Linked DNA regions of Homo sapiens. The protein of the gene in region 1 interacts with the protein of each later gene in a pairwise test. Each region holds a gene or a part of one and is shown on either strand. Other genes may lie near its edges.

Evidence for each region.
Region 2: the proteins of TBX19 (region 1) and RAB2B interact in binary tests that used the Homo sapiens proteins (3 or more experiments, as listed by UniProt).
Region 3: the proteins of TBX19 (region 1) and CCNB1IP1 interact in a two-hybrid assay, tested with the Homo sapiens proteins (one large-scale study listed by BioGRID).

What each region holds. Positions count from the first base shown.
Region 1 is NC_000001.11:168,308,349-168,312,001, reverse strand, and holds part of TBX19 (T-box transcription factor TBX19), read right to left. Parts: intron 3,261-3,653; coding exon 3,125-3,260; intron 1-3,124. UniProt on the Homo sapiens protein: Transcriptional regulator involved in developmental processes. Can activate POMC gene expression and repress the alpha glycoprotein subunit and thyroid-stimulating hormone beta promoters.
Region 2 is NC_000014.9:21,463,420-21,467,072, forward strand, and holds part of RAB2B (ras-related protein Rab-2B), read right to left. Parts: intron 2,452-3,653; exon of another isoform or gene 2,098-2,451; intron 349-2,097; coding exon 237-348; intron 1-236. UniProt on the Homo sapiens protein: The small GTPases Rab are key regulators of intracellular membrane trafficking, from the formation of transport vesicles to their fusion with membranes. Rabs cycle between active GTP-bound and inactive GDP-bound states.
Region 3 is NC_000014.9:20,316,137-20,319,789, forward strand, and holds part of CCNB1IP1 (E3 ubiquitin-protein ligase CCNB1IP1), read right to left. Parts: intron 1,839-3,653; exon of another isoform or gene 1,658-1,838; intron 425-1,657; 5' UTR 388-424; coding exon 91-387; intron 1-90. UniProt on the Homo sapiens protein: Ubiquitin E3 ligase that acts as a limiting factor for crossing-over during meiosis: required during zygonema to limit the colocalization of RNF212 with MutS-gamma-associated recombination sites and thereby establish early differentiation of crossover and non-crossover sites.

The DNA.
Region 1 (3,653 bases):
AGGTTCACACACTTGATTGCACATTCGGCACATTGGAATCACTAGGGGGGGTTTTTAAAGTAATATTGGTGCCTGGATCCCACTCTCACCCCACTCCCCTGCCCCAGAGATTCTGATTGAACTGATCTGGCATGCAGCCTGAGTACGAGGATTTTTTTAAGTTTCCCAGGTGACTGTAATGTACAGCCAAGCTTGCACCTTAATATAGATGCAGTTGGAACAGGTGCAATGAACCCAATGTTTTCGGCCTGTAGTCATCACTATGTTTCTTACATTTTAGAGTTTCTGCATTGCCCAACACTGTATTGCTTGATAATATGCTTATTATCCAATGGCAATATTGAATACATTTGTTTTGTTTTGTTTCTAACAAAATATTTATGGAGTCAGGAATGAGTTAAACACACCAACAGGGAAGCCAGAGTTGGCAATGCCATCCTTCACCTGGTGCCATTTTTCAATGCTACAGGCCTCTTTGGACCATATGAAACCTTCAGCAGCCCATCCTCTGAGCTCTCTCTGAGCTAGCTCAGCTTATGGGGATTCTGGCCCCAATCTTCAGAAGATGCTCTTCTACATTATCTCTTACAGACCCTTTCTGATGCCTCCTGGGCCAGTGGGAGAACCATGGGCTCTGAGAGGTACTGCTTACTGCAGAACCTTCAGGAAGTTTTTAAGGCCTCTGAGCTTCAGTTTCTTCATCAGCAAAATAGGAATTTTAATACCTGCCTTATAGTTGTCTTTGAGTACTACAGATGACTTATATATGGATGACTTATATATATGTAAGTATCTAGTATACAACTTGGCACATGATTGTTTAATATCTTCAGGGAACCTCATCTTCACTCTCTTTCTCACTTCCTACCACAGCCCAAATCAATGTTTTTCCCTCAGATCCTCTAGATCAGTGTCAAATGCAAATGATCCTCTAGATCAGCGTCAAAATGCAAACCATAAATGCCAACTACATGTGTAAGTTTAAATTTTCTAGTAGCCACATTTAGAAAAAAATTAATTTATTAATATTTTATTTAACAAAAATATTCAAAATATTATTTCAACATGCATTTGATGTAAATATATATATTTATATGTATATATTTACATCATAATATTTACATAATAACATCTATATTTACATATACTGTTATATTTTTATATATTTATATATTTTTAATATATATTTTATAGATATTAAAATATATATTTTTATACAAATTATATATATTAAAATATATATTATCTATTTTATATATAAGTCTATATTATATTTAAAAATATAAAAATATATGTAATATAGTGGTATATATATTTTATATTTTTTTATATATATATATAAAAAACTGGGATTTTTATTCTTTGTTTCACACTAAATCTTCAAAATCCTATGTGAGTATTACACTCAACTTGGACTAGCTGCATTTCAAGTGTTTGACAACTACAGGTGGCTGGTGGCTGCTGCACTGGACAGCACAGCTCTACACCCTTGTGGGCCACAGCAATATCAGCAACACCCAGGAACTTGGTAGAAATGCAGAATCTCAGGCCCCCACCCAAACCTACCAATCAGATTCTGCATTTTAACAACAACCCCAGGTGATTCTAAGCCACTACATTCTCCTAACCTTTCCTAACTTTTTCTGGACTTACAAATCACAAGTCATCTGATGTCTTCCCAAATCCCATCCTTTTTTTTTTTTTGGAGGCAGAGTTTCGCTCTTGTTGCCCAGGCTGGAGTGCAGTGCCTCAGCTCACTGCAACCTCCGCCTCCTGAGTTCAAGTGATACTCCTGCCTCAGCTTCCCAAGTAGCTGGGATTACAGGCATGCACCACCACGCCTGGCTAATTTTTGTATTTTTAGTAGAGATGGGGTTTCACCATGTTGGCCAGGCTGGTTTCAAACTCCTGACTTGAGGGGATCTACCTGCCTCGGCCTCCCAAAGTGCTGAGATTACAAGTGTTAGCCACCGCACCCCGCCAAGCCTCATCTTTTAATTTTGAATCCACTTTGGACCTTCTCAAAATTCTGCATAACCATATTGAACATAATAGCTGACATTTACACAGAATGTTACTGCTTACAAAGCACGTTAATGCATTTTCTCATTTCTGCATTTGATGCTCACAGTAACTCTGCAAAGTAGGTCATATTATTTCCATGATACCGATAAGAAAGCTGAAGCTCAGTAAGGCTAAGAAAATTGCCCAAAGCCACAAAATCACTACTAAGAGGTAGAACTGGGACTCAAACCCCTGCCTGTCAGACTCAAAGGGGCCTTCTCTTCCCACTTCACCACTCAGATTTCTAGAAGTCAGAACTTAATGCAGGTTGCTAGTGTGAGGATTAAACCATGGGGTCCCCCATGCTACACTTAACTCTGTTACCAGGGTCGTGAGGCCAGGCATCCACAATATGTCCCCCTTTTAGGATGGGTGACTCATGGGAAAATGGACAATCATGGGTCTTGACTTCTCAGTGTATATTTATACTTTTCCTCTTCAATTCCTCTACAGTCAGTATCTATTTGCTACCACCATAGTTTAAAGTATTTCTGACTGGTTTAAGACAAATGATCCCAGGCCATAATGTCTTTATCCTTTTATTTATTTATTTGTTTATTTTTTGAGACGGAGTTTCACTCTTGTTGCCCAAGCTGGAGTGCAATGGCGCAATCTCAGCTCACTGCAACCTCTGCCTCCTGGGTTCAAGCGATTCTCCTGCCTCAGCCTCCTGAGTAGCTAGGATTACAGGCATGCGCCACCATGCCCAGCTAATTTTTGTATTTTTAGTAGACATGGGGTTACACTATGTTGGCCAGGCTGGTCTGGAACTGCTGACCTCAGGTGATCCACCTGCCTTGGCCTCCCAAAGTGCTGGGATTACAGGTGTGAGCCACTGCACCCGGCCTATCCTTCTAAATAAAAGAAACAGTATATGACTGAGCTGTTTCTCCCCTTATGAAAGAACTCCACCCTGTTGCCACCTTGACTTCTTAGTGTTTTAGAAGTCAAGACAATAGGTTAGACCAAGCCACCCTAGGAAAAAGAATGAACTTGAGTCCCCAGTGCTAAAGTAAACCCCCAAGACGACCAATGAGCGAGTTGATGGTGTTGGTCTTACCTGGGCCCTGGATTGATTGGTCCGTTGGTGTGGGGTACAGACAGGATGCTGGCATGGGGTGTGGAGGATAAGGAAGTCCAGCTGTCAGGTCCCGAGAAAACTTGCAGATTATTGCTTGAGCTTTCTATCAAATTCACTTGGGGAAATAACAACAGTTGAATTGATAGCAAATGTAGAAGACATAAAGATGGTGACCAGTGACATTATCCTAGGGCAAAATATAACCATGGCTTGCACTACAGGCACCAACAGTTTGTTAGTTCTTTCTCAGGGAAATAGAAAATAAAAAGAAACGTGGGTTTCCTCAATGTCAACCATATGCCAGGTGTCATTCATAGTTTAATCTTCACACCAGTGACTCCTTAACTCCATCTTATAGATACGCCTCAGGGTGGTAGAATGATTTGCCCTGGGTAACACCGATCTGTCTAACTCATTTCACCACAGTCACTCTCTTTTAAGAAGGGACCATACCAGCCTCCCCTCAAGCTAAGCCTAAGGGCCACCAGTGCCCCAGATGAGATTTCTG
Region 2 (3,653 bases), on another chromosome or scaffold:
GTATTTTAGTAGAGATGGGGTTTCACCATATTGCCCAGGCTGGTCACAAACTCCTGAGCTCACGCAATCTGCCTGCCTTGGCCTCCCAAAACGCTAGGATTACAGGCATGAGCCACCGCGCTCGGCCAAGACATCCTTTCTTTACCAATTTCTTATAGGAGAAGAGAATTCTGAATACAAGGACAAATAATGGTGTAATCTCTAAAGAGCTTTCCCCACTGTTTTCCAAATAGTACCTCTTCAACATTGCAGGCTGTTTTGGCTGAAGTTTCCATGAATATAAGTCCATGCTCCCTAGCAAAGGCCTCTCCTTCTTCTCTCTTCACATCCCTGCGGGACTCTAGGTCACTGCAAGAGATTAATTAAGGAGAAAATTTAAAAAAAAGATCCAAGTGAAAGAGGAAAGTCTATTTCTAAAAGAATTCCGTCGTGGTTTCAACTGCCAGTTATTTCATAAAGAATGTAGATCCTACATGATACTCTTATACAGAGTTACTGATTTTTGTAGCATCTTGGAAAATATTCTTTAGTTTTGGGACAGCTGCTGCATAGTTGAAGATAATACCTCACTCTATTACAGAGAAAATGGCTTATCAAGGGTTAGGCAAGCCCCCATAGTTACACAAAGCTTATGCTCTATTGCTTGTTTTTCCAATGAGATCAAGGAGAGCAAAGTATAGATGAGGAAAAAAAAAAACTTGGCTGGGCACAGTGGCTCATGCCTGTAATCCCAGCTCTTTGGGATGCCGAGGCAGGTGGATCACGAGTTCAGGAGTTCAAGACCAGCCTGGCCAAGATGGTGAAATCCCGTCTCTACTAAAAATACAAAAATTAGCTGAGTATGGTGGCAGGTGCCTGTAATCCCAGCTACTCGGGAGGCTGAGGCAAGAGAATTGCTTGAACATGGGAGGCGGAAGTTGCAGTAAACTGAGATCGCGCCATTGCACTCCAGCCTCAGCGACAGAGCAAGACTGTCTCTTGGGCGGGGAAGAAAAAAAGGAAAACTCTAGTTACTAGAAAGCAGAAAAGTCATAAGATGTCCCATCCAGCAGTGATGAGCATCTTCCTTTTTTACTGGAATCAAGCCACAAGAAGAGAATGAGCCAGGAATAAGGAAAACACAGTTGTCTTAAGTCTCACTGGTTTCGTTACTAGTGCATATAAAAGCAGCTTGCCACCAGGGAATTCAGAGACAGTGATATGGATAAAATTAGGTGAAAAAAAAGATAAGAGCTAAGGACTGAAAAAGGGAATAAAAATGGCAACAAAAGACCTTATGAAAAACAGGATAAAAGGCTGCAGAGCTGGGCGTGGTGGCTCATGCCTATAATCCCAGCACTGTGGGAGGCTGAGGCAGGAGGATTACTTGAGCCCAGGAGTTTAAGAACAGCCTGCACAATACAGTGAGACCCTGTCTCTACAAAAATTTAAAAATCAGCAGAGCGTGGTGACACATGCCTGTAGTCCCAGCTACGTGAGAGGCTGAGGTGAGAGGATCTCTTGAGCCCTGGAAACAGGTTGCCGTGAGCTGAGCACGTTACTGTACTCCAGCCTGGGCAACAGCACGAGACCTTGTCGCAAAAAAAAAACAAAACCAAAAAAACAAACTGAAGAATAAGGCAAGGTTGGGCTGTTTGTGATTCGTATTTTTCAATTTGAAAATTTTCATTTGGGAGGTTTCCAGTTTTCCAACTCCTTGGAAAAAAAGTGTAAGACCATTAAAGAACAACAAATCTACAATATTTTAATTTATTATACCATCAGCTGTGTGAAGACCAGGGAAGATCTAAATGTCAACCCTCCCAAATTTGTACCTCTAGCCCAGATGCTTGACTAAGCACCAGATTTGTACATTTGTGAATTCTTCATTTCCACACTGATACATAAAACGGACTTCAAACTTAACACATCAAAATGGAACTTCTTTTCCCCTAGCCTGTGTTTGCTGCAGGCTTCTGTATCTCAGTAAATGGCATAAGCCAAAAACCAAAGTGTTATTATTGATACCCTTTGCTCCCTACTCCAAATATCTAATCCATTCCAAAGTGAAGTACTTCCAATATGTACCTTAAAATTATCCTTTCTTTCTCTTTCCAGGGTCACTTCCTAGACCAAGCTACCATTCTTTCTCATGTGGACTATTGCAACTGGGATACTACTTCAGTCCTTGTTCTCCTCCAGAGTGATCTTTTAAAATCTGATCAAGCCACTTCTCTACTTAAAACTTTAAAATGCTTCAGGTGTATTTATTTATTATTATTTTTAATCCCCCATCTCCCAAGCTTCAATTTCCATGTATTTAGAATAAAATCCAAAACCCTTACTCAGGCCTCTAAGGTGCTATAAAATCTGGTCCCTACCTACTTTTCCAACCTCATCTTGCACTATTCCCTCTTGATTTAGTCCAATCACACTAGGTTTCTTTCAATAAACGTGTCAAGCTTCTTCCAAGTTCAAGGTGTTTGTATAGTTTGTTCCCCCCAAGTAATACCCTTTTAAAAAAATCTTTGCCCAGCAGGCTCTTGCCCATCCTTCAGATCCCAGCTTAATATCACTCCTAATCAAAAGTAGGTACCCTGTTATTCTTTCGTAGCACCCTTTTTCCTCCATTGCATTTATCACAATTTACAATTTGATACAAATAATTTTATATTTAACATCTATGCCCCCACTAGACTGTAAGCTGCACAAGAGCAGGGGGACGACTTTTTTCCACCTTGCAAACTCAGAATCTGGCACAGTCGTTTTCAATACATTGACTGATACACTAAAAATAATTAGCAGGATGGGTGTGGTGGCTCACGCCTGTAATCCCAGCACTTTGGGAGGCCGAGGCAGGCGGATCGCCTGAGGTCAGGAGTTCAAGACCAGCCTGATCAACATGGAGAAACCCCGTCTATACTAAAAATACAAAAAAATTAACTGGGCTTGGTGGCACATGCCTGTAATCCCAGCTACTCGGGAGACTGAGGCAGGAGAATCGCTTGAACCCAGGAGGTGGAGGTTGCAGTAAGACGAGATCATGCCATTGTGCTCTAGCCTGGGTGACAAGAGTGAAACTCCATCTCATAACAAACAAATGAAAACAAACAAACAAACAAAAAACCAATTAGCCTGTGGCCACAGTTCTCAAATAGTACACTCTGGGCACTACTACAAACTCACAAGGGTGCCATGGGATACCTCAAACTTTTGAGAAAAACACAGTAACACTCAACACAAGGATACTTACTACATGAATTACAAGCTTAAGACAGTTGCAATGTCAATATCAGACCATGATAAAATTCGTTCAATATCTTCATATCTCTGAGAAGCTGTTTCTGGCAGTTGCTGTTATAAAAAAGCAAGCACTACACAAAAATCAATATGAAATGGGAAATGAGAGTAGCAGTGTGCAATCGTGATTCCAAGGTTTGAGAAGCTATGCAGTGCCCAACAGACACATAGAGGTCTTTAGTAAGTAACTGTTGCTATTTAAGAATGAAATAATTTTTTTTTTTTTGAGACAAAGTCTCACTCTGTCGCCCTGGCTGGAGTGCAGTGGCACTATCTCAGCTCACTGCAACCTCCGCCTCCCGAGTTCAAGCAATTCTCCTGCCTCAAGCTCCCAAATAGCTGGGACTAGAGGTGCGTGCCACCACGCCTGGCTA
Region 3 (3,653 bases), on another chromosome or scaffold:
ATTAATAATAATACAATGAAGGAAAGACACTAGAAGTTCCCACAAATGCCATAAATCACATGCTCAAGAGAAACTAGACTAAGCACTAACCTGATATGTCCAGAAGGCCAGCGCTCGGGAGCTAATGTCCAACACGATCTCTGGTCGCAGTCCTGCCAATACCATAGCTTTATATTCCTCTGATGGACTGAGTTCTGTGCGGACAATATCTAGCTTTCCAGAAAGGGTACTGTTGCAGGCAGGACAGATAGCTGGTGAGCGACTAAACTCACCACTGCCATGCTGATCACAGAAGATGTGAGAGCAGGCAGTGACCCATGCATAGCCAGAGAGTTTGATGCGACACTTTCGATAATTACAAAGCAGCATGTCTTCACACAAAGACATAATAGGATAGTGAGGTCTCCAGAAGCTGAAGAGAGGCCTAAGAAGGGGTAAATAAAAAGGCCAAGTAAGTTAAATTGCAATGAAAATAAAAGTAAAAAAGAAATATAACATGCACGTTTTTATCATAAAATACTGCACATTTTATTATATTCCTTGTATTTATTATAATTGATATATTGATTTCAGTTACTCAATAATATTAATTGTGCTCGTTTGTCCGGTTTTCTAAAAACGCTTTAAGGACAAAGGTAAAGACAAAGGTGGTTACAGATCTTGCTAACGTCAAAAATAATATATACGTGGGCCAGGCTCAGTGGCTCAAGCGTACAATCCCAGCACTTTGGGAAGCCAAGGCAGGCGGGGTCCCTTCAGGTCAGGAGTTCCAGACCAGCCTGGCCAACATGGTGAAACCCAGTCTCTATTAAAAATACAAAAATTAGCCAGGCGTGGTGATTCAAGCCTCTAATCCCAGCTACTCGGGAGGCTGAGGCAGGAGAATCACTTGAATCCGGGAGGCAGAGGTTGCAGTGAAGTGAGATCGCATCACTGCACTCCAGCCTGGGGGACAGAGCAAGAATCTCTCTCATAACATGTATATATATAGGCTGGGCGCGGTGGCTCACCCCTGTATAATTCCAGCACCTTAGGAGGCCAAGGCGGGCGGATCACGAGGTCAGGAGTTCGAGACCAGCCTAACATGGTGAAATCCCATCTCTACTAAAAATACAAAAAATTAGCTGGGTGTGGTGGCGGGCGCCTGTAGTCCCAGCTACTCAGGAGGCTGAGGCAGGAGACTCGTTTGAACCCGGGAGGCGGAGCTTGCAGTGAGCCGGGATCGCGCCATTGCACTCCAGCCGGCGACGGACTCCGTCCCAGAAGGAAAAAAAAAAAAGTTGCCTTGGCCCTCCAGGTCGATAGAAAAGAACACTCGCACACCTTTATCCCAATAGCCCCGCTGAGTGAGTTTCCTCAGGTATGTCACCTGGCAGCCACAGTTAAGATTAAGAGGCCTATTTTACATCCGGCAGAGTAGGGGGCAGCGGGAAAGCAGAGGAGCTGGGAAGCTTTAAAGCTGAGCCCTCTCTCACGCAGCAGAGGCGCAGCTAATTCCGAATCTTCCACCAGCTGGGAGTAAGCGCCAATCTAACTTCTGTACAAGCTGCGTGAGGGGCAAGTTTTAGAGAAACAGACCCACAGAAATTACACTCTGGAATTTTCAGCCAGCTTTCCACGCTCAGTAGAGAAAATAATAGTAACAAATGATACTTAATCTGAGGCTGAAAGAAAAAGCGCGGAAAAACTCCGTTGCCTCCACAGCTCCACAAGCGAAGATTCCAGGATTCTCTGCGAGCGAGTGCTTCAGGGAACTACGCCAGAGCGCGCATGCGTGGGGTTGCCCCGAAGCATCCTGGGACCTGCCAGGCTGAGGGAGTTGCGGGCCGCAGCTCCGGCTAAGAATCGGGAGAAATTCCCAGAAACAGAGTGACAGCTGTAATTGGACAGCTGGCACCTCCATGTTGAGGTAGTCCACCATTTTATTTTTTATCCACCTTGGAATAGACATCTTTCCACTCTCACACATCCTCTATACACATTTAAGGAAATTATAATTTTCCTTGAGTCTGCATTACAAACATGCATTACAGCTCTTTAAATTAAGCGATAGTGGGCCGGGCGCGGTGGCTCACGCCTGTAATCCCAACACTTTGGGAGGCTGAGGCGGGCAAATCACCTGAGGTCAGGAGTTCCCGACCAGCGTGGCCAACACGGTGAAACCCTCTCTCTACTAAAATACAAAAATTAGCTGGGCGTGGTGGTGGACGCCTGCAATCCCAGCTACTCGGGAGGCTGAGGCAGGAGAATCACTTGAACCCACGAGGCAAAGGTTGCAGTGAGCCGAGATCGCACCATTGCACTCCAGCCACGGCAACAAGAGCGACCCTCCGTCTTTAAAAAAAAAAAAAAATTATTTAATTAATTGATAGTATTGAGGGTCAGAACTTTGAGGTGACCTACCTGCGTGCTCTCCTGGAACTGCTAGCAGTGTTTAAATGATTGCACTGTGCCAGTTTTACTCTAATGCTGTTGCCTGTCATTTTCTTTGCCCTTCTGTGCTTACCCATAGCAGCTGCTTTAGGTAATTATTTTCTGCTTAATCTATATGGATCTGTTAGAATTCAGATTAAAAATTAACCTGAAGAGGAAAGCTAGACGGGTCCTCAGGATATAAACCTTAATGAAGCTTTTTTTTCTTTTCCAGATAGGGTCTCACTCTGTCGCCCAGGCTGGAGTGCTGTGACGCGATCTCGGCTCACTGCAACCTCCGCTTTCCGGGTTCAAACGATTCTCCTGCCTCAGCCTCCCGAGTGGCTGGGATTACAGGCACATGCCACCACACCCCGCTAATTTTTGTATTTTTAGTAGACAAAGGGTCTCGCCATGTTGGCCAAGCTGGTTTCAAACTATTGACCTCCAGTGATCCACCCACCTCGGCCTCCCAACGTGCCGGGATTACAGGCGTGCGCCACCATGCCCAGCCTTATACCGTCTTTTGTAGCCATCTTTCCAGATGTTGTGAACCTATTATGAATTAGTAACAGATGCAATTAGCCACGCAGTGGACATCAAACCCTGCAAACCCCTGAGTAGTGCCAAACCATAATATCAAATCTTTTTCCTTCAAACAAAAAACTGTCAAAAACTGTGCAACTTCCTACAAGGTTTGTCATCTGTTTCGGAGTAATTAGGCCTTTGTACATTTCCTAAAATATCTTCTGATAACTTTAAAGTGGTAATTTAATTTTGGTATAAACCAGTTCCAAAAAAAGGAGATCTTCATGTGTGAACCATATACTCCCTAACATCTGTTTTTGGCTGTTTGAGCCTTCTGTGTGAATTCTGGTTTTAACTATGCCAAATGTAGAAATATTAATACAAAAAATAGTACAACTCATTTAAAGTTGAAAAATGCAAAATATTCTAATTTGACTAGTACCTAACTTTGTGATCCTAGCCAATTCCCTTTGCACTGCAATATGATCACTTCCTGGAGATGTATCTAAGTTAATAAATACTTAACATTAATTCATTTTAACAACATGTACTGCAAATATGCTACAATTTATCCATTCTTCTAATAGACATTGATTGCGGGTTTTTACAATTAAAAACAATACTGCAATGAACATTCTGTACATGTCTCCTTGAGTCCACGTGCCAAAAATTCCTCTAGAATATAACACCCAGAGCCTGGGTTAGTATATCAG